Linked DNA regions of Homo sapiens. The protein of the gene in region 1 purifies or fractionates together with the protein of each later gene. This does not show direct contact. Each region holds a gene or a part of one and is shown in the gene's direction. Other genes may lie near its edges.

The links.
Region 2: the proteins of NEGR1 (region 1) and PLOD1 fractionate together in Homo sapiens (co-fractionation; one large-scale study listed by BioGRID). This does not show direct contact.
Region 3: the proteins of NEGR1 (region 1) and GLMN purify together in Homo sapiens (affinity purification with mass spectrometry; one large-scale study listed by BioGRID and IntAct). This does not show direct contact.

Annotation. Positions count from the first base shown.
Region 1 is NC_000001.11:71,397,388-71,401,041, reverse strand, and holds part of NEGR1 (neuronal growth regulator 1 precursor), read left to right. Parts: 3' UTR 1-3,654. UniProt on the Homo sapiens protein: May be involved in cell-adhesion. May function as a trans-neural growth-promoting factor in regenerative axon sprouting in the mammalian brain.
Region 2 is NC_000001.11:11,941,184-11,944,837, forward strand, and holds part of PLOD1 (procollagen-lysine,2-oxoglutarate 5-dioxygenase 1 isoform 2 precursor), read left to right. Parts: intron 1-3,338; coding exon of another isoform or gene 3,339-3,479; intron 3,480-3,654. UniProt on the Homo sapiens protein: Part of a complex composed of PLOD1, P3H3 and P3H4 that catalyzes hydroxylation of lysine residues in collagen alpha chains and is required for normal assembly and cross-linkling of collagen fibrils.
Region 3 is NC_000001.11:92,260,896-92,264,549, reverse strand, and holds part of GLMN (glomulin), read left to right. Parts: intron 1-817; coding exon 818-927; intron 928-1,623; coding exon 1,624-1,687; intron 1,688-3,654.

The DNA of each region.
Region 1 (3,654 bases):
TTTTTTTCTTTTTCAGAGTTTTGCTCGGTTGCCCTGGATGGAGTGCAGTGGTGTGATCTTGGCTCACTGCAACCTCCGCCTCCTGGGTTCAAGCGATTCTCCTGCATCAGCCTCCCCAGTAGCTGGGATTATAGGCACGTGCCACCACACCTGGCTAAGTTTTGTATTTTTAGTAGAGGTGGGGTTTCACCATGTTGGCCAGTCTGGTCTAGAACTCCTGACCTCAAGTGATCCACTTCCCTCGGCCTCCTAAAGTGCTGGGATTACAGGCGTGAGCCACCGCTCCCAGACGAGATGTAAAATTTTTAAAGCCATTGAATTAAATTCATTGCTAACATTTTGAGCTTTGATAATGTAATGCCTACTTTAATGACCCAAAAAAAAAAAAACCCAAGTAACCTATCTATCTAATAATCTATGTTTTTTAATTACTCCTTTTCTTCCTTATCTCACAAACCATAATCCAATAGTCTAGGACATGTGAAAGAGAAAGTAAACAGTCACAAGAACTACCTTGCTTCGAGAATCCACCTTGTTGAAAAAATAATATATTTTGGGCACTTGTTAAAAAGAATTAACAGAAAAAGTCTTTTTTTTTTTGTCACAGGGGCATTTAATTCATGGTATAACAGGAATTTTATATCAAAAACAGTAAGAAAAATGAAGTAACAGTTGAGATAGCAATAATTCATCAACCAAATACTATGATAATGATAAAAACATTGCAAGAAGCTATAGCCAGAACTGAGTGTTCTGCTCCTACTTAGTGCTAATGAGCCCAGTCCTAGCACACATCTTGGTTTGGTAGAAACTACAGGAGGTAGCATGGTTCATTACACCTTCAAAACTTTAAAATGTTAAAGAGGGTGGTTTCCCTCCTTCATTTCAAATGGATTGCTAAAAGCACTGGGCTATTCCTTGGTGGAAATTTGAATTTGCCAGTTTCTTCATCAATTTTGACTTTTTACATTCAAAAAGGAGTTAACTTTACACTAAGTCACAGCAGACTTAGACCTCCCGCAGTTCTGAATTGTGCTTAAACAAGTATTCAAGCACATGGGGATTTCTCAAGAAAATTTGGGGACCATATCTTAGAAAAAAAACTTACAAAATATTCGTTGAAGACTATAATATGCTAAAGCTAAGGAACAAAATTCTCTTGATTGTTCTAAAAATACCTAGTAAGAGCCACAGAACTCTTCCATAGTTTTCTAAGTAGTTTCATAAGTGTGGATTGTGGTTGCCCTGAAACTTGACATCTCCCTACCAAGTACTTGACAAGTGACCTGGCAAAAATGTGTTCAATAGCTCATTTTTGACATACTCCTTAAGAAATCATTGCCAGAGATTTGAAACTGCTTCAAGCTGATGTCTTTTTCAAAACAAAACACATACTCACACACAAATACAAAATCGCATTGCTATCAGTGATCTGGAAAATAAGCTTGCAAGCTGGCCATGTGGTGTTCTGAATAATTTTTTTAAAGTAGAAGAAGAAATGACAACAGTGCAACCAACAGTTTCTGTTTAAGTTTTATTTGCTAAGACGTTAGCATAAGGAACATCTTGTGATTTAATTAATCAGAAGATGGCACCTGCTGTAAATACTGACATGGAGAAAAGCAGATTTTTAAAAAAATTTGGAATAAATTAATTTCTTGTAATACATTTTTCTTGTTGATAAACAACTAAATTATGCTTTGAAATGTGTTACTGTCTAATAACTTTAAATGTTGACAAGGAGAAAGACTGGGTTTTTTTTTTTACATTTGAATAAGCAATTTTTTTCTGGAAACATATATATTTCTAATTTATAGATAAACTAGTATGTGTGTTCAGAATTCCTGCTCTCTCATTATTCAGGTTTCAAAATGTATTAACAAAGCTTTTATGGTTTTATAATAGACAATTAGATATCTTTCATCAGGTAATGTAAGAACTTGTATAGTGGTATATTAGTCAGTTTTCACACTGCTGATAAAGATATACCCGAGACAGGGCAATATGCAAAAGAAAGAGGTTTTTTTGGACCTACAGTTCCATGTGGCTGGGGAAGCCTCACAATCACAGTGGAAGGTGAAAGGCACGTCTCATATGGCAGCAGACAAGAGAAAAGAGCTTGTGCAGATAAACTCCCCCTTATAAAACCATCAGATCTCATGAGACCCATTCACTATCACAAGAACAGCATGGGAAAGACCTGCTCCCATGATTCAATTACCTCCCACCAAGTCCCTCCCACAATCCGTGGGAATTCCAAATGAGACTTGGGTGGGGACACAGCCAAACCATATCATTCCACCCCTGGTCCCTCCCAAATCTCATGTCCTCACATTTCAAAACCAATCATGCTTTCCCAACAGTCCCTCAAAGTCTTAACTCATTTCAGCACTATCTCAAAAGTCCACAGTCTAAAGTCTCATCTGAGACAAGGCAAGTCTCTTCTGCCTATGAGCAGCCAGTAAAATCAAAAGCAAGTTAGTTACTTCCTAGATGCAATGGAAGTACAGGCATTGGGTAAGCATAGCCATTCCAAGTGGAAGAAATTGGCCAGAACAAAGGGACTACAGGGGCGGTCAAGTCTTAAAGCTCCAAAATGATCTCCTTTGACTCCATTTCTCACATCCAGGTCATGCTGATGCAAGAGGTGGGCTCCCATGGCCTTAGGCAGCTCCGCCTCTGCAGCTTTGCAGGGTATAGCCCTCCTCCTGGCTGCTTTCACCAGCTGGCATTGAGTGTCTGTGCCTTTTCCAGGTGCATGGTGCAAGCTGTTAGTGGATTTATGATTCTGGGATCTGGAGGACAGTGGCCCACTTCTCACAGCTCCACTACGTGGTGTCCCAGTAGGGACTCTGTGTGGGGCTCACTCCACATTTTCCTTCTGCACTGCCCTAGCAGAGGTTCTCCATGAGGAGAACTTCATTCTGGGCATCCAGGCATTTCTATACATCCTCTGAAATTTAGGTGGTGGTTTCCAAGCCTCAATTTTTGACTTCCATGCACCCACAGGCTCAACACCATGTGGAAGCTGCCAAGGCTTGGGGCTTCCACTGTCTGAAGCAACAGCCCAAGCTGTACCTTGGCTTCATTTAAATCATCCTGGGAGCAACTGGGAGGCAGAGCACCAAGTTCCTAGACTGCACATAGCAGAGGGACCCTGGGCCAGGCCCACAAAACCATTTTTTTCCTCCAAAACCTAGGGGCCTGTGATGGCAGGGGCTGCTGCAAAGGTCTCTGACGTGCCCTGGAGACATATTCCCCACTGTCTTGGTGACATTCAGCTCCTCATTACTTATGCAATTTTCTGCAGCCAGCTTGAATTTCTCCTCAGGAAATGGGATTTTCTTTTCTATCACATTTTCAGTCTGTAAATTTTTCAAACTTTTATACTGTTTCCCTTTTAAAACTGAATGCCAGCCAGGTGCACTGGCTCATGCTTGTAATCTCAGCACTTTGGGAGTCTGAGACAGGCAGATCACCTGAGGTCACGAATTTGAGACCAACCTGGCCAACATGATAAAACCCCAACTCTACTAAAAATATAAAAATTAGTGAGGCATGGTGGCACATGCCTGTAATCTCAACTGCTTGGGAGGCTGAAGCAGAAGAATTGCTTGAACCCAGGAGGCAGAGGTTGCAGTGAGCTGAGATCAT
Region 2 (3,654 bases), about 59 Mb from region 1:
ATCTCACCGGGTTCAGTGGTGGTAGCTGTTCCTAAAAGTACTTTGTTTGTTTGTTTTGTTTTTTGTTTTTTGTTTTTGAGAGGGAGACTTGCTCTGTCACCCAGGCTAGAGTGCAGTGGCACCACAAAAGTACAAAAGTACCTTCCATGTTGCTGCTTTTTTTTTTGAGACAGAGTTTCACTCTGTCACCCGGGCTGGGGTGCAGTGGCACAATCTTGGCTCACTGCAACCTCTGCCTCCTGGTTTCAAGTGATTCTCCTGCCTTAGTCTCCTAAGTAGCTGGGATTATTATTATTATTATTATTATTATTTTTGAGATGGAGTTTCACTTTTGTTGCCCAGGCTAGAGTGCAATGGCACAATCTGGGCTCATTGCAACCTCTGCCTCCTGGGTCAAGCAATTCTCCTATCTCAGCCTCCTGAATAGCAGGGATTATAGGCGCCTGCCACCATGCCCAGCTAAATTTTTTTTGTATTTTTAGTAGAGACGGGGTTTCATCACATTGGTTAGGCTGGTCTCAAACTCCTGACCTCAGGTGATCCGCCCGCCTAGGCCTCTCAAAGTGCTAGGATAACAGGCGTGAGCCACCGCGCCCGGACTAGTAGCTGGGATTACATGCACCACCGTATAACTTGCAGTATGTAATATGCACCACTGCCTGGCTAATTTTTGTATTTTTAGTAGAGACGGGGTTTTGCCATGTTGGCCAGGTGGGACTTGAATTCCTGACCTCAGGTGATCTGTCCACCTTGGCCTCCCAAAGTGCTGGGATTACAGGTGTGTGAGCCACTGTGCCCGGCCTTTTTTTTTTTTTTTGAGACAGAGTTTCACCCTGTTGCCCAGGCTGGAGTACAGTGGCACAACCCTGGCTCACTGCAACCTCTGCCTCCTGGGTTCAAGCAATTCTCGTGCCTCAGCCTTCTGAGTAGCTGGGACTACAGGCTCTTGCCACCACGTCTAGCTAATTTTTGTATTTTTAGTAGAGACGGGGTTTCACCATGTTGGCCAGGCTGGTCTCAAATTTCTGATCTCAACTGATCTGCCTGCCTCAGCTTCCCCTCACTTCCCAAAGTGCTGGGATTACAGGTGTGAGCCACTGTGTCAGGCCTCACGTAGCTGCTTAAGGCCAGAATGTACAGTGTGTCTTGGTCATGCCCAGTCCCAGCCATGGTGAGGGAGAGGGAGACCAAGGAAATAAAGATGTGGCCCTGGCCTGGCAGAGGGAGAAGGAGCAGGTTTGTACCAATACGTCAACTACTGGGCAAACCAAGACTGCACGTGCAAAGGAGTGACCACATGGGATGAGATTAAGGAGGGCTTCCTGGAGGAGGTAGACTGGAGGCCTCTTTAGGGGAAGGAATGTGTGTTGCAGACAGGTCAAGGGAATGGGGTGCAGGCTGGGTTTACTGAGGCTGTTTCCTTGGGGATGTTAGGAGGTCATGCCAGGGTCTCTTGTTGGAGGGCTTGCCTTCAGTTCTCTTGTTGTGAACCGCCTCCCAGACCCCTGCATTGCAGCCCAGTGTCAGCGGACCAAGGGGATGGATTGGACCAGTGATTCCCAAATGTGGCTGACATCAGAAATCACCTGGGAAAGGTAGGAAAAATCCAGACTCCTGGGCCCACCTCAGACCCCTAGCCCTGGGGCCTAGGAGCCTGGATTCCACAACCTCTCTTGTGATGCTGATGTGTGGGCAGGTTTGGGACCCTCTGAACTGGACAATCACGTGGGATCCTCAACCAGAGAGGCAGGCTCTGCGTGGCCCAAGGAACCCGGGAGTTTTTTTTGTTTGTTTGGTTTTTTGTTTTTTGTTTTTGTTTTTGAGATGGAGACTTGCTCTGTCACCCAGGCTAGAGTGCAGTGGCATTATCTCGGCTCACTGCAATCTCTGCCCCCTGGGTTCAAGCAGTTCTCTGCCTCCACCTCCCGAGTAGCTGGGATTACAGGCTCCCGCCCACCACCATGCCTAGCTAATTTTTGTATTTTTAGTAAAGATGGGGTTTCACCATGTTGGCCAGGCTGGTCTTGAACTCCTGATCTCATGATCCACCTGCCTTGGCCTCCCAAAGTGCTAGGATTATAGGCATGAGCCACCGTGCCCGGCTTTTTTTTTCTTTCTTTTTTTTTTTTTGAGACAGAGTTTTGTTCTTGTCGCCCAGGCCGGACTGCAATGGCACAGTCTCTGCTCACTGCAGCCGCCACCTCCCGGGTTCAAGCGATTCTCTTGCCTGAGCCTCACGAGTAGTTGGGATTACAGGCATGTGCCACCACGCCCGGCTAATTTTTGTATTCTTAGTAGAGACAGGGTTTCACCATGTTGACCAGGCTGCTCTCAAACTCCTGACCTCAGGTGATCCACCTGCCTCAGCCTCTCAAAGTGCTGCGATTACAGGCGTGAGTCACCACGCCTGGCCACGGAACCTGGGGGTTAAGGTCCCAGTGTGGGCTCTCAGCAGCACTGTTTCCCTGGAAAACAGGGAATAGACAGGTTATAGGGAGGAAAGTGGGCATGTGGGGAGGGCACAGCTAGACAGCTCCCTTACATAGATAGAGAGACAGGGCCCTCTCAACAGATGGCCTGGCCACCGTCCCTGGCTGGGCAGTGCATGCATTTAGGTTAAGAGAGGAGACTCTGGGTTCAGGCTTGTGTCCAAGTCCTGGTGCTGCTGCTTCCTAGCTCCCTTGGGCACATTACTCGCCAGCTGTACCCTTGGTTTCCTAACTGGAAAGTCGGGGGTTAGTATGTGTGAAGTGCTTGGAACAGCATTGGCTGGGCACGGTGGCTCATGCCTGTAATCCAGCACTTTGGGAAGCTGAGGCAGGCAGATCACCTGAGGTCATGAGTTTGCGACCAGCCTGGCCAACATGGTGAAACCCCATCTCTACTAAAAATACAAAAAATTAGCTGGGCGTGGTGGCCGGCACCTGTAATCCCAACTATTTAGGAGGCTGAGGCATGAGAATCGCTTGAACCCAGGAGATAGAGGTTGTAGTGAGACAAGATCTAGCCACTGCACTCCAGCCTGGGTGACAGAGCGAGACTCTGTCTCAAAAAAAAAAAATTGTGTCTGGCACACAGAAAATGCTCGATGAAGGTAAGCCATTATTGTTGCTGTTATTGAGAAGCAGGAACCTGAGAAAGGGGCTTTGAGCCACGCCACCCCATCCCCTTCCCCCACCCCTGCTGCTGGAGTTCAAGAGCCTGTTCCATCAAGAATCCTGAATTGCGCATGCACGCGTACACACACACACACACACACACACACACACACTCACTCACATGCTCTCACGCTGGCTTTTTCCATCCATGAAATGTGACACTCTTCCTGTCCCCAGCAGCCCCCTGTTGCCAAGAGGGCCTCAGAGCTGGTGGCTCTGGTTCTCTTCACCTGGGGAGAGACTTCACCGTCCTGGCAGGAGCTCGGGGGAGCCCTTCCCCAAGTGTGAGCAGCATCCCTCGTTTCTGGATCCCAGGTTCAGGTAGTGAGGCCTCTCCTTCCCACACCTGCCTGGTGTATCCACCCCCTCCTCCCCCAGCACCGCAGCTAATCCCTGCCAATCCCTGCTGGGCCGCCTGGCGCCAGCCCTCTGCCCTGGGGCCAGCTCCCTGCCCCGGCTACCCCTGCCCCAGCTACCCCTGCCCCGCCAGCTCTGG
Region 3 (3,654 bases), about 21 Mb from region 1:
GAACATAGCCAAAGTGTCAATTACCAATTTATTTCGTAGGGTATATTTATTCATATGTAGAATACATTAATGTGAGTTATTGCTCTATCTCTAGTATTACTATTACTTAAATATTATTAAGGCATATTTTTTCCCCTATTTCTACTATGTTTTAAAAACTCTGAATTTGGAAATTTAGTTAACTATAAGTTTAAATTGTATTCTTTGAGGTTTTGGTTTTTGTTTTTGTTTTTTTTGAGACAGGGTTTCACGCCTGTCACCCAGCTTGGAGTGCAGTGGCATGATCTCAGCTCACTGCAGCCTCCACCTCCTGGGCTCAAGCAGTTCTCCCAACTCAGCCTCCCGAGTAATTGGGACTACAGGTGTCCACCAGTGCGCCTGGCTGAATTTTGATTTTGTAGAGATGGAGTTTCACTGTGTTGCCCAGGCTCGTCTTGAACTCCTGATCTCAAGTGATCCACCCACCTTGGCCTCCCAAAATGCTGGGATTACAGGTGTGAGTCATCACTCTGGGCCTCTTTGAGCTGATATTGTGGCTTATTTTTGCTTTGTTATATGCTTCTCAAAAATGAATGGAAACTTAAGTCTCTTCTGTTTCTGAGTGCTCAGTAATTCTAAATGGAAAACAGAGTGACCAGTGTTCTCAAACTGGCAGGGTTCGTTCCTGGTGTCTGGAAAGTGAATGAAAGTACGGAAATTAAAGTTAAAAACTGTATTTTAAATGTGCAATTCTTCATTTTTGTAGTGTCAAGGTATTAGAAAAACACATGAATTACATGAATTATAAAGCTTTCTCAATTTTTCGTTTGCTTTTCAGAGAACACGTAACAACAAATGGTTTACAGGACCACAGTTGATTTCCCTTCTTGATTTGGTACTTTTTCTCCCAGAGGGTGCAGAAACAGATTTACTGCAAAACTCAGATAGGTGAGGTGACCATTACCAAAGTTCACATAGTAAATTCAGAATAAAATGTGAAACATCTGCTTAGGGAACCTAAAGTAATAAAATGTCTTTTCCTGTGATTTTATGATCTATGGCTAATTCATTAAGTTACATAAAGATTTTTCATATTTAAGTGATTTGATAATGTGTAGAAACAAAATTAAAACCTCCTCTTTCTAGATGAATGACCAGCACTATGATTTGATAGCTTTTATGTACCCAGCATTCCATAGAAATTTGCAATGACAGCACTTGTGACTTAAAACTAAAAATCTGTGTATGTAATTTATGTGTTTAGGTTTTGTTGTTTTATTGTTTTCCAGGTCATTTTTTTTTTCATATAGAACATATAATTTCAGTTTCAGTATACTGGAATGGATATTGAGAAATGGTTTAAAGCATTTAAAAAGTAATCTTAAAATTCAGAAAGCAAGAGATGATGCTCTCAAATATTAAAGATAACAAGGCTTTCTTTAAACAAGGATGATAATTTTCACAATTGTATGATTTAAACAAATGGAAAACAGTGATAAGTTATTACTACTCAAAAAGATATTAATGGAAATAGTTTCTATTGGCAAACCTAATTATAAAAATATGACCAAAGTTTTAGCTTATTGAGATTGCTGTTGACTATATAAAACCATACTGTAAGTAACATATATTTTTAATTAACAGGATTATGGCTTCATTAAATTTATTGAGGTATTTGGTTATCAAAGATAATGAAAATGACAATCAAGTAAGTGAAGTATTTGAAAAGAAACTGTGAGTATATTCAAAAGGCATAAGGAATGTTTCAGATATTCAGTACCTAAAGCCAATATTTAATATCTTACCCAGATATAAAGGCCGGGAAGAGTGCCAACAATTATTCTGAAACCTGAAGTTAATTCCCAGGAGCATTTACCACCCCACATCCAGCTTTCCTTTCCCTTTCCATTTCCTATTGTACGTCTGCTTTCTTGCTGAAAGCACTTAGTCCTGTTGGGTGGATAAGTTGCAGGTCCTAAGTCAACTAACCTTGTGGAGCTCAACGTACATATGGTGTCTTGTTCAGTTTCCTCCACCTATAGCTCATGAGCTGTATAAAATCATCTGATATTTTAATATTGCCTCATCAGACATGACAAATTGAAGCATTTTCAGCACTAAAACAGAATTTGTTAACAGCACCTTTTAGATATGTTTAGGAAGTTGGATTTTTTAAAAATAGCACATCATTAGAAGTATTCAATAAATAGAGAAGTATTCAATAAATAGAAAACTATTTGAGGGAGATTTGTCATACAGTAAAATTATATTTGCTTTTTATCTTCTCTTTCTACCCTGTTCTGATCATTGCTTTCCCTATATGTGTCACCTCTATTAGCTAGAACTACCTGAATCATGTGTTGTTAATTGGTTTTTTTTTAGTAATTCATTTTTATATAAAGATGCCAAAGAAAATTTTTTTTAAATTAGGTAAATCGTGATTTGGGATGAAGGTTTATGAGAAAAGTAGCAGTCTCTTTCCTTCCTGACAGATCTATAGTAGATTCAGTGATTTGAACCCCCGTTCATCCCTCTTCAGCTGAAAATAGCTATTTGCCATCATTGACTAGTGCTTACTCTGTATCAGGTGCTATTTTTTTTTAACATTTTGTTGTGAAACTTTTCAAATGTACAGCAAAGTTGAAAGAATTTTATAGTGATCATTGGTTTACCCACCACCTAGAGTCTATGATTCTACTGTACTAACTTCATCATGTATCTATCACTCCACCCTCTGTCTATCACTCCGTCAGTCTATTTTTTGATGTATTTCAAAGTAAACTGCAGACGTCAGCATACTTTCTCCGAAATATTTCAGCATGTATTTCATTACATTGATTAAATATTTGTCTGTAGTTTTTCTTTGAAGTAAAATTTACATAATGAAATGTTCAAATTTTAAGTGTATATTCACTGAATTTTAACTAATACATAGATCTATATTACTCAAACCCATATCAATATAGAACATTTCCAGCATCACAAGAGGTTCCTCATACCCCTTCCTAGTTAATTCTGACCTCGTTGTGCTACTCACCCCTGCCAGGGACAACCACTATTCTGCCCAAGTGCTGTATATCATTCATTCTTCAGAGAGCGTCTCGTTCTCTTGCCCAGGCTGGATTACAGTGGTACAATCATGGCTCACTGCAGCCTCGACCTCCTGGGCTCAAGAGATCCTCCCACCTCGGCCTCCCAAAGTGCTGGGGTAACTTCCAGGCATGGGCCACCATGGAAAACCAAGAAAAGTACTCTTTATTTTTCACTTTTCATAGATAATGTAGGTGAAAAAAGTTCATTAACTTGCACAAGGGCAAACATCTGGAAAGTGGTAGAAATAGCTATGACCCCAGGCAGTGGCCAGAACTTTCTAAATCACAAACTAAATCCTGATTCCTGAAGGAGCTTGTGATAAAAATTGAAAAGCTACAATATAAAATTCAGCAGCAGTAGAGGCCCTGAGACTTCAGGAAGGTGGCCTTAGGGTAGGGTATGAGTTTTTATTTTTTTAGTAATCAAGAAAGGCTGTACCTACTTGAGAGATTATCTGACTTGCCTGACAAAAAGAAAAGGAATCTTGTTGATTAGGATTGATAGGTGTGTTAGATATGGAACACAGAGTAATACAAAGGCAGCAGATTGGTCTCTGCTTAGAGAGGGAAGACCTGAGAGCAG